Homo sapiens: one gene and its partners. The protein of the gene in region 1 interacts with the protein of each later gene in a biochemical or structural test. Each region holds a gene or a part of one and is shown in the gene's direction. Other genes may lie near its edges.

What was found. Proteins that work in one complex are often made in the same cells at the same time.
Region 2: the proteins of NEDD4L (region 1) and UBE2D2 form a complex in vitro, tested with the Homo sapiens proteins (11 studies listed by BioGRID, with this or other methods).
Region 3: the proteins of NEDD4L (region 1) and UBE2E1 form a complex in vitro, tested with the Homo sapiens proteins (2 studies listed by BioGRID).
Region 4: the proteins of NEDD4L (region 1) and NSRP1 form a complex in vitro, tested with the Homo sapiens proteins (one large-scale study listed by BioGRID).

Annotation. Positions count from the first base shown.
Region 1 is NC_000018.10:58,396,223-58,400,318, forward strand, and holds part of NEDD4L (E3 ubiquitin-protein ligase NEDD4-like), read left to right. Parts: coding exon 1-47; 3' UTR 48-4,096. UniProt on the Homo sapiens protein: E3 ubiquitin-protein ligase that mediates the polyubiquitination of lysine and cysteine residues on target proteins and is thereby implicated in the regulation of various signaling pathways including autophagy, innate immunity or DNA repair.
Region 2 is NC_000005.10:139,619,832-139,625,020, forward strand, and holds part of UBE2D2 (ubiquitin-conjugating enzyme E2 D2), read left to right. Parts: intron 1-3,536; coding exon 3,537-3,630; intron 3,631-5,189.
Region 3 is NC_000003.12:23,811,948-23,817,136, forward strand, and holds part of UBE2E1 (ubiquitin-conjugating enzyme E2 E1), read left to right. Parts: intron 1-5,189. UniProt on the Homo sapiens protein: Accepts ubiquitin from the E1 complex and catalyzes its covalent attachment to other proteins. Catalyzes the covalent attachment of ISG15 to other proteins. Mediates the selective degradation of short-lived and abnormal proteins.
Region 4 is NC_000017.11:30,168,309-30,173,497, forward strand, and holds part of NSRP1 (nuclear speckle splicing regulatory protein 1), read left to right. Parts: intron 1-592; exon of another isoform or gene 593-617; intron 618-4,233; coding exon 4,234-4,290; intron 4,291-5,189. UniProt on the Homo sapiens protein: RNA-binding protein that mediates pre-mRNA alternative splicing regulation.

The DNA of each region.
Region 1 (4,096 bases):
TTCTCATGGCCGTGGAAAATGCTCAAGGATTTGAAGGGGTGGATTAAGCACCCTGTGCCTCGGGGGTGGTTGTTCTTCAAGCAAGTTCTGCTTGCACTTTTGCATTTGCCTAACAGACTTTTGCAGAGGCGATGGCAGAGAGCAGCTGCAGGCATGGTCCCTGGAGCCGAGCCTTCACCACGCACTCGTCCAAGTTCGGATGCGGGAACCTGGTCCCAGCTTGAGTTCCTGCCTTTCCCACCACAAATTATCAACTGGTTGATGTGTACACTAATTACATTTCAGGAGGACTTAATGCTATTTATGTTGTGCCTCTGCAGGCAAAGCCCTTAATAAATATTTTACATCCTTTCTAATGACAATGAATGGAATTAATCACTCAACAGGTATAGTATTACGACTCATGTTTACTTTTTAAAATGATTTAGACCGATTTTCAGATTTTATTTCGTTATGATTAAAGATGTCTCATGTACTTGGAAAAGTGAGCATTTTTTTTTTTTTTGTATTTCACTTTCATACCAGGCTTAATGTCAATGACATTTTTATTTTTGAAGTACTCTGACACCTCCACCCTCTACTTTATTAGAATTGGAAGGCAAATTTTTGTCCAAAAACCTACAGACAAGTACTTTGAGAGAATTTCCAATATAATATTAGACATAATGATAATTTTTTCCATACTCAGAATGAAAAACTGGATATTACGTTTTTGTTTTGGGGTTTTTTTGTACAAATTTAGCTAATAGCTACAGGCTGAGAGAATTGTAACATAGCATGACAAATTTTGTGTTGACTTGAAAGGAATCACACCATTATTCCTTAGAAGTAATTACATGTGTTCTAACACATTTGAGACAGGGTTGGACTCCCATTTCTCATCCGAGAAATTACTTAACCCTTCCTGGCGCTGTACAGTCATCTTTTATTCTATTTCCTCTTTGCTGTTTGTAGTAGAGACATTTTGAATGAAACTTGGCACTGCTTGATTCAAAACTGTGGAAACCAGATCTGTTTAGTCTCCTGTTTGTATGCGTTTGCTAATGGTAGCTAAATAACCAGTTTTTGTTGTAAATGCACCAATTCTGAAGGCACTTTATGTACTACATGGAGGTCATATCTGGTTTTGTTTTTATTTTTTTATCATGAACATTAAATGTGATGATGATTTCTTTTCCCTGCACACATCTTTCCGGTGCAATATCTATCAATTGTGAATCTGGCTGCTGGTGTATAAAAACCTGGATGTAAAGCTGAGCCTACAGACCTGTCCTCACCAACTGTTTTGTGATTTCTACTCAACTACAAAGATTTATTTAATGTACTCTTAATCTAACTGAGTTTTGTTACCAATGACCTGTTGCATGCTTCAATACCGTGTACTGCCTGAGTTGTGCCTCTTGTGTGCTAGATTAAAAGTGAGACAGAGACTTGACTTGATCCTCTGAGCTCAAGCTATTGAGCTGGTAGTGGCAGAGGACTGAGGGTACCTGCACAGTTTGATTCTTTTCCACGTGTAAGTCTCCATTGCAGAATTGTCGTGCTTTGAGAAAACACCTGAGGCAGTGTGGGAGTTGAACGACCCTGCTGTCCTTTTTAACCTGTGTTGTCCTAGACCCTGTCGGGGCAGTCAGGGGACACTAGAGATTTGATCTCATGCGAGTCATCAATAGGACAAAAAAGTTGTGGTTTGGGGAGGTCTGTTTGTTACATAAAAAGGACCTTTCGGTGTAAGAAATTGCCGTTTTTACCCTGCCCTGGCTGGCATGTGAGAAGCCATGGAAGGTTGTGGTTGTAAATGAGTTGTCTAAAGGGGTGCAGAGGCCTGAGGTTTCTAAAAGAAGGTAGATTTCTACAGAGCTGAGTGTTGGTTCCTTTTTCTTATTGGTTGAAAATTACCTGGTAGTGATCAGAAAACTTAGATGCTATGTAACTAAAAAAAAAAAAAAAAAAAAAAAAAAAAAAAAAAAAATTCCCGCTCATGAGTTTTGACTATTGGTGAGATGTTTTCCGCTACAGTTAACATGACAAATGTCTCAGTGGCAAAAATCCCCTTTTTGTAAGCCCCCATAGTCTAGAGGCAGTTTTCTTTTTAAGAATCATGCCAGAGCCTGAGTCGAGCAGTATGCTTTCTTGGTTTTTGAGAGTAATTGTGTAATTGTAGAGGGAGAAATCCAATTCTAACCTAAGAACTGGGATTCTTCTGTCATCTTGTAAACCGTATATTGAAAAAAACAGAATGTCACTAAATGCATATTAAGTCAAGTATTGGAAAGTATAAAAGAAAAATCATTCTGACAATTTCTAAGCCAGAAGCAAACAAGAATTACTGAAATCTACCCCATGAATACTTGGAAGGCAGTAATTGTGAGTGACACCTCAGTTCATCAACCCCTTAATAATATCAGCTTAATTTTAATGACAACTAAATATGCTGAAGTGAGGATTTAGTATTTTTTAAAAAAGCAAAACAAGGTTCAGTAGTCCTCAGCAATTCTCCAAGTTTCTCTCTTTGCCTAAAATGGTCATAGATCTTGATTTCTCTGAATCGTGATGACCACACCCAGTCATCTTCACAGCATAATTGCAGGTGGCAGTAAAGAGAGTGTGCTGGGTAAGGAGCAGTTGCTGGGTCATTCCTTGGGCCCCGACCTGCCCGGGGAGTAGCCCTGGGGGAGAGAGGGCAGTGTTGCCTATCCCAGAGGTCCCAGCAGTCACACTGCTCTGCAGGCCGGGCTCTCTTTATAGCCAGAGAAATCACCTTAATGCAGTCTCTTTAGTTGTCTGCTGAAGCTGTAGTTATTATGGGCCACTTACATGAGGCTGAGAAGTACGTGCCGGAGCTCACACACTGCCTGTTGCGGTTCTCTTAACATCAGTTATCACAGCTGCCTGTGGGTCCCGGGTATTTCCATTCCTGCCCCTTGTTGGCCCGAGGAAGGATGTGGAAAGAGCACCTGGTGGGATGAAGGTCCAACAGCCTGTGCCTCTCCACTGCTGGCCCTGGAGCCGGCAGCAGTGAGGCATTCATTGTCTGTGTTGCGGTGTATTCCCAGCTTCAGTGCTCTTTTCCTTTTTGCCTGAAATGTTTATGCTTCTCTGCAGCCAGTCCTCTAACAAATCTCAAGAACAAAGGTAAGACACTTGGTTTTTGTTTCCAGGACCCTTCAGAAGGTGACATCAGATATTCCCTAAATTCAGACAATGAGGGATACAGAGCGACTTGGCATGTATTATTTCTCCCATGTAAGGACAAAGGGACAGATTATTATTGTTATTTCTGAGACAGAGTCTTGCTCTGTAGCTCAGGCTGGAGTGCAGTGGCTCAATCTCAGCTCACCACAACCTCTGCCTCCTGGCTTCAAGCGATTCTTCTGCCTCAGCCTCCCCGAATAGTTGGGATTACAGGCACCCACCACCACGCCTGGCTAATTTTTGTATTTTTAGTAGAGATGGTTTCACCATGCTGGCCAGGCTGGTCTTGAACTCCTGACCTCAGGTGATCCTCCCGCCTCAGCCTTCCAAAGTGCTGGGATTACAAGCATGAGCCACCGCACCCGGCCTCACAGTGACAGATTCTGAGAAACAGCATGCAAAACATTTGAACCATTTTCTACATCTCCCATTGTTGCATAGAGAGTGTGCACCGCTGCTATCTTGCCAGATCCACACTGGTCCTCCCGAAAGCCAGGTTCATACACAGCAACTTTTTAATTATTCTAACAGTTACCCATTAACAGTCGACTCCTGTATTTCTGAGAGTCTTGTACTCACCTCTGAAATTTAAAAACGTATAAAGAGAGCCTGGGTTAATCAGTTCTGCAGCCCCTACGTGACACTGTGCTAGTTCTCCTTCTTCTGTCTCCTCCTTACCCTGGCCCTGCACCCCTGTACTTAAGAGGGAGAGGTGGGAGGTGCTGTCTGGTATCATTTGCTGCCTCGCCAGTAGAGGGTGCCGCTGTGCAGGGTAACTGCCCGCCTGCTCCCTTCCTGACCTCCCCTGACCCCGAAGATCACTACCTCTGTCATTCAGGCATTGGGGTACATCCTGATAAGTCGTGTCAGAACTGCCAATTTCAGGACTGAGATGTGTTTT
Region 2 (5,189 bases), on another chromosome or scaffold:
CAGCCTGGGCAACAAGAGTGAAACTCCGTCTCAAAAAAAAAGGAGGTTTAATTGGCTCACAGTTCTGTGGGCTATACAGAAAGCATGGCAGCATCTGCTTCTGCGGAGTCCTCGGGAGCTTTTACTCATGGCAGAAGGCAAAGGGGGAGCCACCTGTCTCACATGGCAGTAGCAGGACCAAGAGAGAGATGGGGGAGGTGCCACACACTGTTAAACAGCCAGATCTCATGAGAACTCTATCACAAGAACAGCACCAAAGGGGTCGTGCTAAACCATTCATGAAGGATACACCCCCATAATCCAGTCGCCTCCCACCAGGCCCCACCTCCAACGTTGGGGATTACAGTTGAACATGAGATTTGTGTGGGGACACAGATCCAAACCATATCAGTATATTAGAAACCAAAATGAATTCTTCATGAAATCAAGAAGCTAAGTAGTGTACTAAAAATCTTTTCACAAGGTCCAGATAGCCAGTACTCTCCTTTCCTGGAAAGAAAGAAAAGCCCTTTCTTTAAAACCTGTCCTTTAAAGTTGACTTATTAGAATATTTAGAAGAATAAGTTAAAGGAACATTCAAAAATTTCTAACTTCCCTGTTGTCATTTCCAGGAAATACATGAAGTCTTTCCTAATTGATGTTAGAATGTTCTATGCTTGAAGAGGGCTTCAGGTGATGACACCTGACAATAGGAAAATGTTTTTGGAATGCCAGCTGCCAGAATTGTGGGTAACAGGAATGAAGAGTCAGAAAACATCTCTCCTGATTTTTTAAAAAAACTTTTCATATACTCTTAAGGCAAGGAAATAGCATTTTTGTTACCAAACTGAATAGGGCATGCCAACTATTTCTTTACTTCTCAGAAGCCCTTGATCTCTATAGGATAGATTTGGTAGGAATATGAGCGAATCCTTTCCCTGCTGAATTTATGTGTTGGGAGTAAAATGGGCTGAGAGTTATTATCTCTTGGTACAGAACACCTATTAGAGAAAAGAAAGATGGCTGAGCTCTATTAGCATTAGTATAGAAGGATTTAAATTTATTTTGTCAGAGGCTACTGAACTTAATGTAATCAGTGACTTTATGCCCCCTTTGCATTCAGTAAGGAATGCATAAGTTAATGATAGATATGGCCGGGTGTGGTAGTTCACGCCTGTAATCCCAGCACTTCGGGAGGCCGAGGCAGGTGGATCACTTGAGCCTAGGAGATCAAGACTAGCCTGGCCAACATGGCAAAACCCAACCTCTACAAAAAATACAAAGAAAATTAGCTACACATGGTGGCACTCACCTGTAGTCTTACCTGGAGAGTGAGGTGGGAGGATGACTTGAGCCCAGGAGGTTTAGGCTGCAATGAGCCAAGATCATGCCACTGCACTCCAGCCTGGGCGACAGAGTGAGACCCTGTCTCTAAATAAATACATACATAAATAAATAAATATTTTAAAACATAAGTTAATGACAGATTTGAACAAAGGAAATTACACTATTGAGATTTGTCTGCTACATCCCAGGTTGTCACCGAGGAAATGGCTTAGATGAGATTCTAAATTGTCACTGAAGAGAATTTGAGACATTCATAGAAGTATGTTGTATTCTCTGTAATGAGTGTATGACCATCCCCATTTAGGGGCAAGTGTTTGCATTTATGTTCTTGATTTAGACTGAATTGTTTTCAACTGAAAATTAAACAAAACAATTGTCTGAATGTGGTGCCTGCCACTGGAAAACAGTGATTGTTGGATTTTATGGTTGTCGTTTTTGCTAAGAATATTCAGTAGTGTGGCTGTCTTTTTTTTTTTTCTTTTTGAGGCAGGGTCTCACTCTGTCACCCAGATTGGAGTGCAGTGGTGTGAACACAGCTCAATACAGCCTTAACCTCTTGGGCGTAAGTGATCCTCCCACCTCAGCCTCCTGAGTAGCTGGGACCATAGGAGTGTGCCACCACATCCAGCTAATATTTTTATTTTTTGTAGAGACAGAATCTCACTCTGTTGCCTAGGCTGGTCTCAGACTCTTGGCCTGAAGCGATCCTTCTGCTGTGGCCTCCCAAAGTGCTGTGATTACAGGAGTGAGCCATCGCACTTGGAATTTTGAAAGCCATTTATCCTTGAATATGGGCTTCTAAAAAATTGAACTTTATGGGATCTGAAAAATGTTCTTGGTCTAGAATTTAGACAAAGTTCTAATTCTATTCTAATTACTAGCCAGGGACATTGAACACGTCACTGCACCTGTCTGGGCCAGCTCCCTTAGGAGTTCAGGCATAAAGACAGTCATATCAACTCTTCTTACATCATGGGATTGTTGTGAGACTTTGCACAAAGGGGCTTATATTTGTATCTGGGAGACCAAGATGTCATTTAACATTAATTTTCTGCTATTTGTTTTATTTTATTTTTTATTTTTTATTATAATTATTATTTTTTGGAGATGGATTTTTTGCTGTGTCGCCCAGGCTGGAGTGCAATGCTACGATCTCGGCTCACTGCAACCTCCACCTCCCAGGTTCAAGCGATTCTCCAGCCTCAGCCTCCTGAGTAGCTGGGACTACAGGCACACACCACCACGCCCAGCTAATTTTTGTATTTTTAGTAGAGATGGGGTTTTACCATGTTGGCCAGGATGGTCTCAATCTCTTGATCTCGTGATCCACCCCCCTCCGCCTCCCAAAGTGCTGGGATTACAGGCATGAGCCACTGCAGCCAGCCTTCATTTTTATTTTTTAATGACCTAACCTAAAGTCTGTTTAAGCTTCTTAAAATCCTTGTTGGTAGGCTGGGTGCAGTGGCTCACGCCTGTAATCCCAGCACTTTGGGAGGCCAAGGTGGGCGGATCACGAGGTCAGGAGATCGAGACCATCCTGGCTAACACGGTGAAACCCCCGTCTCTACTAAAAATACAAAAAATTAGCCGGGCGTGGTGGCGGGTGCCTGTAGTCCCAGCTACTCAGGAGGCTGAAGCAGGAGAATGGTGTGAACCTGAGAGGCGGAGCTTGCAGTGAGCCTAGACCGCGCCGCGCCACTGCACTCCAGTCTGGGCGACAGAGCCAGACTCCGTCTCAAAAAATAAAAAATAAAAAAAACTATTTGCCAGGTGTGGTGGCTCACGCTTGTAATCCCAGCACTTTGGGAGGCCGAGGCGGGTGAATCACGAGGTCAGGAGTTCCAGACCAGCCTGACCAACATGGCGAAACCCCATCTCTACTAAAAATACAAAAATTAGGCCAGGCATGGTGGTTCAAGCCTGTAATCCCAGGACTTTGGGAGGCCGAGGTGGGTGGATCACCTGAGGTCAGGAGTTCGAGACCAGCCTGGCCAACATGGTGAAACCCCAATTCTGCTAAAAAAAAAAGAAATAATAATAATAATAATAATCCTTGTTGGTTACTGTTAATATAAAGTTAAGTAAAACTTACAAAGCTGCTAGGCATTACAGTATAAATTCTTAGAATTTTCTCATGTTTTGGCGTCTCATGTTTCTCTCAACCCTTTGCTTTGATCCTCTGCTAATTTATATGATTTTTTTCATTCTAGTACTCTTGTCCATCTGTTCTCTGTTGTGTGATCCCAATCCAGATGATCCTTTAGTGCCTGAGATTGCTCGGATCTACAAAACAGATAGAGAAAAGTAAGTATGGCCTCAAGATGGAAAGTTATCTGTGGTGGGATGGAGATGTTTGTCACAAATCTTTCTTGTTTAAGGGCTGAATATCGGCCAGATATTTAAAGTGAAGTCCTAATATACTCTCCTGGGGCTAGAAAAGAGAAATATATGCATTGAGTATTATTATAAGTAGATGATGCCAGTCTTATCCCTGATTGTTTCACGTGACTCCTCTTGTCTACAAAAACTTTTTTTTTTGTTTGTTTTTTTTTGAGACAGGGTCTTACTCTGTCACCCAGGCTAGAGTGCAATGGTGCAGTCTTGGCTCACTGCAACCTCCGCCTCCTGGGTTCAAGTGATTCTCATGCCTCAGCCTCCCGAGTAGATGGGATTACAGGCGCAGGCCACCACGCCAGGTTCGTTTTTTTTGTAGTTTTAGTAGAGACTTTTACCATGTTGGCCAGGCTGGTTTCGAACTCCTGACCTCAAATGATCTGCCTGCCTAGGCCTCCCAAAGTGCTGGGATTACAGGTGTGAGCCACCACACCCATACAAAAACTTTCCTATGGTATATTTTTCAACAGCTTAATGCCTTATGCTTGGCTTTTGATATATAAAGCACTTTTCATCAAGTGCCCATTTGCCTGCCATAGGTATTTGTCAATTAATGGGAAAAGAGAATTGATTTCCTACCATTTGACATAATCTAAAGGAAGAAAGCAAATAAATGCCATTAGACGTGAAAGCCCCAAATTTCTTTTAAAAACAAAACTTGATGTAGAATTTGGGTATTTTAGAATTGTACTATGAATTATTGAACAGTGGTCAAGATATCAAAAGAGATAGTAGCTAAAAGTGTTCTAGTAGCATTTTTTCTTTTCTTTTTTTCTTTTGAGATGGAGTCTTGCTGTGTTGCCTGGGTTGGTCTCAAACTCCCTACCTCAGCCTCTGGAGTAGCTAGGATTATAAGCATGCCCACCATGCCCAGCACTAATAACATCTGTTTTATGTAGTATTCAGTGAAGTTATAAGAGGAACTAGATAGGAGAGGGTGGATAGTTCTTTTAGGGCCGGGCGCAGTGGCTCACGCCTGTAACCCCAGCACTTTGGGAGGCTGAGGTGGGCAGATCACAAGGTCAGGAGTTTGAGACCAGCCTGGCCAACGGGGTGAAACCCCGTCTCTACTAAAAATACAAAAATTAGCCGGGCATGGTGGCGGGCACCTGTAATCGCAGCTACTCGAGAGGCTGAGATAATTGCTTAAACTCAGGACGTTTAGGTTGCGGTGAGCTGAAATTGCACCACTGCACTTCAGCCTGGGCGACAGAGCAAGACTCACGTCTCCAACTTGAGTTCTAGTGGATTAGAGAGGCATAGATACGTTTTTGTTTTTAGTGGAGGTAACACTGGGAATGGGATATTCTAACAGTAGTTGGTTCTTGCTTTTTCCTATTTGTGAATTTATTGTCAAATTTTTTTGATTAGAGAACTGTTTTGTCCGATATTTAGAATTGTGGGTCTGAATGCTTACCAGAAGTCATTTCCCAAGTCATCATGGAGTAATGTTGAACACTGTTGAACAG
Region 3 (5,189 bases), on another chromosome or scaffold:
AGCATATAGATTTTTTATTAGACTTTTGGCAGAGCAATTCAGGAAACAATTTCTGGCTTTGATAAAGGTTTTCTTTTAAATTGTAGAGTTAAACTTTCATGGGGTGTTTTTTTCACTTGCTTTATTCAGACTGTATACATATGTGTGTTTCAGTTTCAAAACAAATTGAAACCAGCTTTCTAAGGGTTTGTTGATCACAGCTTTATTTAGAGAAGCCATTTTGCTACTGTTGAGTCAAGGTGGAAGACTTGATGACTTTACTAGATCAACAATGAAGTGAGGGTAACTTACAACTATGTATTAGAATAGAACCATTTATTTAAGGGAGGTCCTGTAACTCCCATACTTTAAAAATTAAGTATAACATTTAACCTAGTTCTCAAGATCGGCGTTGGAAAGGGATGTGAGATTTCAGAAATACTCTAAACTTATTGGTAGGAGTAGAAGTTACTGACAAAGTATTCAGCGGCTATACACAATTTTTAAGATGAGTGTGTGGGAATAGGTTGAAAAGCTAAATGAAGTATTTTGTTTAGTAACAGTGAACTTTGGAAACTAATTAGTGGATTAAATACAAAACTATTGCCGTTTTGGTTACATTCATTCTTAATGTTGATTAGGTGTGGGATGCTCTTCCGTGAAACTTTGTCCTGTTTTGTAAGGAAAGTCATTTTGAGTTTGAAATGCTCTTAAACTATAGTTTATAATTGGAACACTTAATCATTCTGGGGAATTCTTTCCTGGCTAATAATCTCTCAAGATGGTTGAGAAGTGGAAAAACCATAAGACTTAGGCCTAACTCATTATTTTGATGGTGGTGGTTCACGTGGAAGCCTGTAGCTTCCCTTGGTTGTTTGTGTGGAATCCATGTACATTCCCCAAGGTGGTTCTGTGCTGTCTAGTTATTGCTCCTGCTTGGTATTGTGTGTCTCCTATGTGTGTGTTATTAATAACATTGATTAAAACATATAATGGCTTTCTTGTGAATAAGCACAGTCAAATCTAAAATTGTAAACCATTTGAAGATTTTCATGGGATTAAGCATTTAAAAAAAAAAAACAGTGTAAGTACACTTCAGTTTCACATCGTTTTAACTGAGTTTATGTGTGAAAGATTTATGCTCCTGAGGCATGTGGAACTTTTTTATCTTTGGGAAACCCTCCCAATTACCCCTTCAAGGTGAAACGTTTGGGAATTACCTGTGGTCAGGGGATGCACCAAACTGGGTGGCTGTTGGGTGATTGGTGTTACGGAGTCAAAGCTCAAAATACTAAATTTTAAGAAAAATCTCTGATTTGAGAGAAAATACGAGGCATCTTCATTTTGCAAGAGAATGTATATTACATTGTCTTTTAACAATAAAGATGACTTTATTTTCTGAAGATATTTTCCAGTGGGGCCGTTTGAGTAATGTGAATTAAAATTTTTACTTTTGGTTGGCTAATGGTGCTGTCTTAATGTTATATAGTAGTCCCAATATTCAGCTCTCTTAAAAGAGTTCGGTTTTACGTTTTGTGCTGTTACCTTTTGGAATTTAATTATTTAGTATTTTAATGTACTTTATTGGAGATAAAGATGGATTATTTATTTATTTATTTATTTATTTTCTTTTTGAGACGGAGTCTTGCTCTGTAGCCCAGGCTGGAGTGCAGTGGCATGATTTCGGCTCATTGCAACCTCCACCTCCCGGGTCCTGGTTCAAGCAATTCTCCTGCCTCCTGAGTAGCTGGGATTATAGGCACGTGCCACCATGCCCAGCTAATTTTTGTATTTTGGGTAGAGATGGGGTTTCACCATGTTGGCCAGGCAGGTCTTGAACTCCTGACCTTGTGATCTGCCCGCCTTGGCCTCCCAAAGTGCTGGGGTTACGGGCGTGAGCCACTGCACCTGGCCTTGGGGATACTTTTTGAAGTCAGCGTCCAATGAAAATCTATGAATTAAGTGATATATTAAGTGCGTACATGTTTAAAATTACCCTCAGCATGAAAGCATGAGATTTGAATGAGTTAAATAATTGGTTTTCAATTAGTCTGTCTTATATTTTTACCCTTTGCCATACTTCCTTTCTTCAGTCAGCATTCAGTGTGTAGTTTTAAACACGTTATTAAAATATGGCACTTGGCACATAGTAACTTCTCAGTAAATACAAAAATTAGCCGGGCATGGTGATGCACTCCAGCCTGGGCGACAGAGTGAGACCCTGTCTCAAAAAAAAAAGTTGATTATTGCAAATCAGTAGAATTGCTCCTCTTGAAGGAAGGTGCACTGTTTGTGTTCACTAATTTTGGCACTTGGCAAAAATATTTGAAGTTACTGAGCATCAAAACTTATGTGAAATGCAATTGCTCAATATGTTATAATGTATGAAAACATAAAATTAAATTCTTAATGTTGTATATTATGTTGGGTGGATATTTTTTAGAACACAGTACAGATTGTGTTCAATGACCTGGTCCAAAGTCATTTTAAGTAAGTATTTTCAAACTGCTTTATGTTGCCATAGAAATCAAATTCTTAATTTTAGTATCTGTGATTTGTGTGTGTGTGTATATATATGCATACACACACACACAAAATAGTTTCCCAACTCACTCTTCATTTTGGTTAGGCTTTTATTCCCATATCATTTAGCTCTATTCTTTTAGGGAAAAAAATATGTTAACTTTGTAATGATTCCCTAAAGCGTGCCAGATCTTAGATTGTAAAATTATGCCTTTTAGATAGCTGATGAACTCTGGGCCACCAGAGTCAGTTTTGCAGCTGTTATTTATAGCCCAGGGCTCAAACTTTGCTAAATTGACTAGTTATAACTAGCCTGTAGACACGAATATCTGTAGACAGTATGTCTATACAGACTAAATGGCATATTTTGCCTAAGTCCTTTAAACTTCAGATTTTATTTAATGGATATATTTGTTTCATGAGTAAATGTCTCAGTGACTTAACCTAGAAATTCAGATGGGGTGCTATTTTAGGATAAAATGTCTGAAAAGTCATTAAACACTTCAAGCATGGGTGAGAATAATAAAAATACATTTCTTTCTTTCTCACTTTTTTTTTGAGACAGGGTCTCATTTTGTCACCCAGGCTGGAGTGCAGTGGTGCTCACTGCAGCCTTGACCTCCTGGGCTTAAGCTGTCCTCCTGCTTCAGGCCCCCAAGTAGCAGGAACTACAGGCGTTCGACACTACACTCGGTTAATTTTTTGTATTTTTTTGTAGAGACCAGGTTTTACCTATTGGCCAGGCTGATCTTAAACTCCTGGCCTCAAGCCGTCCACCCACTTTGCCCTTCCAGAGTGCTGGGATTACAGGCGTGAGCCATGGTGCCTGGCCCTGATACTAGTTTTTCTGTATGTGACAGAATTTCCATTTAGCCTTCTTTTGATAGCTTTTTTTTCCCTAACACTGCCTATATTTTAAATAGTTTTAAGCCATTATATTATACAAGAATGCATGTTTTTGAAAAATTCAAATACAGAAGTTTGTGGAGTAAAAGGCAAAAGATAGTCCTGATGACCTCTTCTGATCCTGCTCCTTGCACACAGATGCTCCAAGTTAGCACTTTGTATACTTCCACGTAGTTTCTGTGAATTTACATTGTGTTTTTCTGGCATTCCAATACCTCCTCGAATTGGTGGTAATGGTAATGAGATGTCAGTTCAGAAGTCCCAGGCTGCTCATCATGGTTCACAATGGAAAGAGATCCTTTTCTTGCAACAGTGGAGTGTTACATACCTCGTCCAGGTTCAGCATGTTTTAAATGGTTGTTTGGGTATAAGAAATAGGTTCAGCAGAAGTCATCCTTTATAAAACCCTGTATCTTATGTGCTAAAAAGTATTCTTCCTTTTAGCATCTTTCATTTATCTGATGTTACTAAATGCGTTAAGGATAGAAGTGTGACTTAAACATCTGAATGATGTTTAGTTTCACCATTGCAGTGTGTATACCTTTATGCATGTAAAGGCAGTGTTGAAAAATTGTGACAACCAGGAGACTGGGGTTTCAGCACGATCAAAACAGCACCCATACTAGGGTCAGGCTGTTGGGAATTAGATCATCACTGGGGCCTTTCCTATTAGAGAGGAAAGAAACCCTATCTGGAGATGAATTGCCTTTCAAATGAGCAGGAAGTCTTGTGGCGGTTGTGTTTACCAAAAGACTATATCTGGATTGTAAAACTGTACTATTGTTATTCCTCAGAAAGCTAAACAGAATTACCGTATGACCCAGTAATTTTACTGCTATCTATGTACCCTGAATAATTAAAAACAGAGGCTCAAACAGATAACCTGTATGTCAGTATTCATAGCATTATTCATAGTAGCCAAAAAGTGGAAAAAACCCAAGTGTCTGTCAACAGATGAGTGGATAAACAAAATTTGGTTAATCTATAAACTGGAATATTCATCTATAAAAAGGAATGAAGTTGTGATGCATGGATACAACATGGTTGAACCTTAATGTTATACTAAGTGGGCTGGGCGCAGTGGATTACGCTTGTAATCCCAGCACTTTGGGAGGCTGAGGCAGGCGGATCACGAGGTCAGGAGATCGACACCATCGTGGCGAACACAGTGAAACCCCGTCTCTACTAAAAATACAAAAAAATTAGCCGGGCATGGTGGCGGGCACCTGTAGTCCCAGCTACTCAGGAGGCTGAGGCAGGAGAATGGTGTGAACCCAGGAGGCGGAGCTTGCTGTGAGCAGAGATCGCACCACTGCACTCCAGCCTGGGCAACAAAGCGAGGCTCCATCTCAAAAAAAAAGGTTATACTAAGTGAAATAAACTAGAACCAAAAAGACAAATAGCGTATGATTCCACTTACATGAAATACCTAGAATAGGCAAACTCATAAGGACAGACAGTAGATTAGAGGTTTTCAGGGACTGAGGGGAGGGGAGAATGGGGAGTTATTTCTTAATGAATACAGTTTCTTTTTGAGGTGGTGAAAGTTTTGGAAATAATGGTGATGGTTGCGCAATATTGTGAATGTAATTAATGCCACTAAATTGTACACTTAAAATGGTTAAAATGGCAAATTTCATGTTATATATATTTTATCACAATAAACAGTTATACCACTGTTAAAATATTAATCAGTATTTTGAGAAAAATGCTTATAGCTTAGAAGGCAATACTCACAGTTTTTGGGGATTCTTGTTAAATTCCTGTCACAAACTTTGAGG
Region 4 (5,189 bases), on another chromosome or scaffold:
TGTTGTTGTTACTATTTTTAGATTAATATATTTCCTTTCTGGATTTCCATTTAAAATATATTTAAAGAATCATAAAAATTAAACACAAGCAACATCCTTTTATATTCTGCACAGTTCTTAGCAGAATTATAGATTCAAAAAAGACACACAGAATAGGCCACAATACATGTGCCAATTTTTGTTCTCAATCTTAAAATTACATAGTATAATTATTATGGTTATCTGAAAACAATCACGTTGTGCACATGTACCCTAAAACTTAAAGTATAATAATAATAATAATAGTAATAATAATAATAATAAATAAAATAAAATAAGTATCTGCTCTTTTATGAGGAAATTGTTTTTAATTGTAGTAGTTATTTTTCAGTCTGATCTGAATCTAGATGAGTTTTTTATGTTATATAGAAGATCATTTTATATATTTTTATATAGGGTTACTATTACAGAAAAAAGTAAAAGTTTTACTGCTACTCTTTTAAGCTTTTTGTATTTGTTTAAACAGGTTTTTGGCATTTAATCGTCATCCTTAGTGGTAATTGTTAAAGTACCTTTATTTAGAAAATTGAGAATCAAATGACCTTCAAAAGATCATCAGTTTTTCCTGACTTTTTCAGGTTAGGTTCAGAGTTATCCACTGATGCTGTTGAATTCTAGGGATATAAGTTTGTGAATAGAATATGTAAAACTATTGCACTCCTTCCATTATGTTACCTTCCTGTGTAAGTAGTAACAGCTTGTTTTTTCAACGGTCATACTTCATTCTTCTAAACAGCTATGAACATAGAAACAAAATCTTTTGAGGTGTCTCAAAATAGATATAGTCTACATTGGAAAGGCCTTTCTCAGTCTGCTTATTCTATATTTTATAAAAGTCTGGAAAGGTATAGCCTTGTGTTTTTCTTTCCCAAGTTTTCTTTTTAAAAGTTATTTTATTTCTCTGAGAATCTTCCATAACAACCAAGTTACATAGTTTAGATTGAAGCATCCAGTTTGAAAGGCAGCAGGTAAACTCTGACAGATTAAAGGTGACAGACTGAAGGAGGAGATAGGAAAAAATAAAAGCAAGTAAAAGAGGAAAACATCCAGCATTTGGAGATGTAATCTTCTCAGTCAGTCCTGAAGACATCATTAACTCAGTGGTCAAGAAAAATATTTTTCATTCATACTAATCAGAAATACAGACATGAAAATACATTGGAAATATTAACTATTACTTTCAGTTTTGGTATTTAAAATTGATATTCTAGTGAATGAAAGTTTCATATTACATGTAACAGAAATTTGGATTAAATCAGTAATACATGTAATACACAACTAGTATACTTAGCATAGCACCTAGCTCAATAAATGTTAGCAGCTATTACTGTTTTTGTTATCAACATCTTTCCCCCAGTTAGTCAGTTTACCATCACCTAAAATGTCTTTAGTTCTTTGCATACTTATTTAATTTTTTAAATATGTATTATATGACCTTTGTGTATTAAATTGATTTGTCTGTGGTCATAGAGAACTATTTTGTTCTGGTTATTACCATGAAAAAAAAAAAGCACCAATTGCTGGTACAATACAACTGAAGATAGCAAGTGTTAATAGGCTGGACTACTATAATTCTAGAGCTGAGGATTTTGTGTACATATATATATTTAAAACTTACACATATGTTTTTATGTATATTTAAGACTTCGTTTTTTTTTAAACAGCAGTTTTAGACTGACAGCAAAATTGAGAGGGACAGAGATAACCCATGTAGCCCTTGCCCCCACAAATGAAAGAATTAAAAATGCATCAGTAGCTTTATTTTGGCTTTTTTAAAAAGATGTAATTCACATAGCATAAAATTCATGCTTTTATACAATTCAGTGTCAGTATATTTGCAAATCCTGATACTTGAAAAAAATTAATTGTGCATATTAAGGTATATAACAATTATGGGATATAGATGGTAAAAAGTTTACTACAGTAAAGCAAATTAACATGTCCATTATCTTACATACTTTTTTTGTTTCTGTGGCAAGAGCAGCTACAATTTACTCATTTAGCATGAATACCATATATAGTACAATTTTATTACCTATTGTCCTCATGTGGTACATTAGATCTCTAGACTTGTTCATCTTGTTACATACCTACCTCTTCCCATTTCCTCTCACCCCACCCCTAGTAACCATTGTTTTTAAGTTCTTTATCTCTGTGAGAGATTCCACTTACAAATGATGTCAGGTACTATTTTTCTTTTTGTGTCTGGCTTACCATGTAGCATAATGTCCTCCAGGCCCATTCATATTGTGGCAAATGGCAAGATCTCCTTTTTAAAGGCTGAATAATACTCCATCATACATATTTACCACAGTTTCTTTATCCATTCATTTGTCAATGAACAGGTAGATTGTTTCCATACCTGGCTATTGCAAATAATGCTGCAATGAACATGGGAGTGAAGCTACCTTTACCAGGTGGTGATTTCATTTCCTTTGGCTATATGCCAAGAGGGATTGCTAGGCTGTATGGTAGTTCTATTTTTAATTTGTTTATAAACCTCCATACTGTTTTCCATATTGACTGTACCAGCCTACATCTGCACCAGCAGTATATAAGAATTCCCTTTTCTGGCACCCATGCTAACCTTTATTATTTTTTGACTTTTTTAGAATAGCCATTCTAACAGGTGTGAGGTGTTATCTCTTAGTGGTTCTGATTTACATTTCCCTGATGATTAAAGCCTGTACTATTAAGGAAACATATTTTTCTTAAGTATTTTTTTTTCTTAGCTGTATGTAATCTTTAGTTTTGCCCATGTGATGACTACTTCCTATCTTCCTCTTGCATTCTTTTACATTTTTATTCTCTTTGATTCTGGTCTAATGTCATATCTCTTTTGGAAAGGGATTCTTGATTCCTCATATACATTTAGTTGCCTTCTCTGCCCTGGGCTCCCACAGTGCTTTGTTTATTCCTTTATTATATTGCTTATCACATTTATATTGTAATTGTCTTTTTTTTTTTTTTTTTTTTGAGACAGAGCCTGGTTCTGTTGCCCAGGCTGGAGTGCAGTGGCACAATTTTGGCTCACTGCAACATCTGCCTCCCAGGTGCAAGTGATTCTCATGTCTCAGCCTTTCAAGTAGCTGGGATTACAGCTGTGCTCCAACACTCCCGGCTCATCTTTGTATTTTCAGTAGAGACGGGGTTTCACCATGTTGGCCAGGCTGGTCTCAAAACTCCTGGCCTCAAGTGATCTGCCTGCCTCAGCCTCCCAAAGTGCTGGGATTACAGGCATGAGCCACCGCGCCTGGCCATATATTGTGATTATTTCTTTAATTGTCTTCCCTTTCAGACTGTTTATCTGAAAAACAAGATTTTGTTTCAGTCTCTGGCCTAAGACTGAGACTGTTCTTGCTTTTTCACTATCCTCAGGACCTAAACATGCTTTTTGGTACATAGTTTTTGATTATTGCCACGAATAGTTGCTGCTGTCCCTAAGCCTTAAACATAAACCGAGAGCTTGATACACTATATTGAGTGGTGAATATTAAAATAGTTTGCTTTTTGTAAGCTGGGAATCATACCATTTTAGTGTTGGAAGGTACCTGAAATATTATCTAGACCAGTCTTTCCCCATTTCTCACACACACACACACACACACACACACACACACACACACTCCCTCTCTCTCTCTCTCTCTCTCTCTCTCTCTCTCTCTCTCACATGTTCACATGAAGCAAATTGAAATCTGTAAAGGTTGAATGACAGTAGTGAATTTAGGACTAAAAATTCATGTTTACTCATCTTTTCCTGTACCATTCTATTTTCTCTGATACCTTATAATCTATTCTGAGGATTTACAATGCAAATTCATTTATTTCCTGAAGTTTAGGGAAAAAACCCTGAAAATGTTAGTTTAATTTGTATTATTATCTTTTTACTTTTAACTATAAGTAAGGCACCATTGCCAACCAGAAAACAGGTTGAGCATCCCAAATCTGAAAATCAAAAATCCTAAATGTTCTAAAATCTAAAACTTTTTTGAGCACTAATGTGAAGCTCAAATGAAATGCTCATTGGAGCATCAGATATCAGATCTTCAGATTTGGGGTGCTGAACCAGTAAGTATTTTAAAAATCTGAAATACAAAACACTTCTGGTCCCATGTATTTTAGATAGGGGACGCTCGTACTGGAAAAGAAATTTTAAATTTGTTTAAAAAGTGACAATATATTTCTGTTTTACAGACCTCTGTGAGTGAAAGCCTTCAGAGGGAAGCTGCTAAGAAGCAGGCCATGAAACAGGTAAGGTAGAAGACTGGGATAAGTGCATTCAGTGAAGCATTCCGGCTCATTTTTAAGCATCAGTTTTGGTATCTAGGTGCTGAGACTAAAACAGAATAGATTTAAGGAAAAACACAATGAAGAATTAGCTCCTTATTGCTGTGCTATAGATTAAACCAGTTCTGCTTGTAGATGACTCATTAGTCTAATAATGGATTGTTTGGCCTGTTGTTATTATTAAATTCTTGCTAGTGAGCTTACTTGCAGGGAAAAAAAAAACCTTTTCACAACCAAAATGGTTTCACAAACTTATAATTATTTGAAACTCATCTGCCCAGAAAGAAGAATATCAGAGATAGATACAAATATATAGATATATAGATATATAGATTTTTTTTTTTTTTGAGATTGAGTCTTGCTCTGTTGCCCAGGCTGGAGTGCCGTGGTGCACTCTCGGCTCACTGCAGTCTCCATCTCCTGGGTTCAGGCAATTCTCCTGCTTCAGCCTCCCGAGTAGCTGGGACTAAAGGCGCATGCCACCATGCCCAGCTAATTTTTATATTTTTAGTAGAGACGGGGTTTCACCGTGTTGGTCAGGCTGGTCTGGAACCCGTGACCTCAGGTGATCCGCCAACCTCAGCCTCCTGAAGTGCTGGGATTACAGGCGTGAGCCACCGTGCGCGGCCTGATAATTTTTAAAAGACGTGCTTGTTTCCAAGTGCTTTTTACATACATTTATCTTTTACAGTTCTCACAAACTTGCCCATAGTACTGATTAAGAAATCTGAAACTCAAAAAGGATAAAGTGCTCCTTAAGATCATACTATTAATTATCGAACTAGGCCTGAAGGTTTACTAATTTTTCTGCTATTGTAGACTAGTATATCTTAGATTTTCTGCTATAGAATGTAATGAAATTA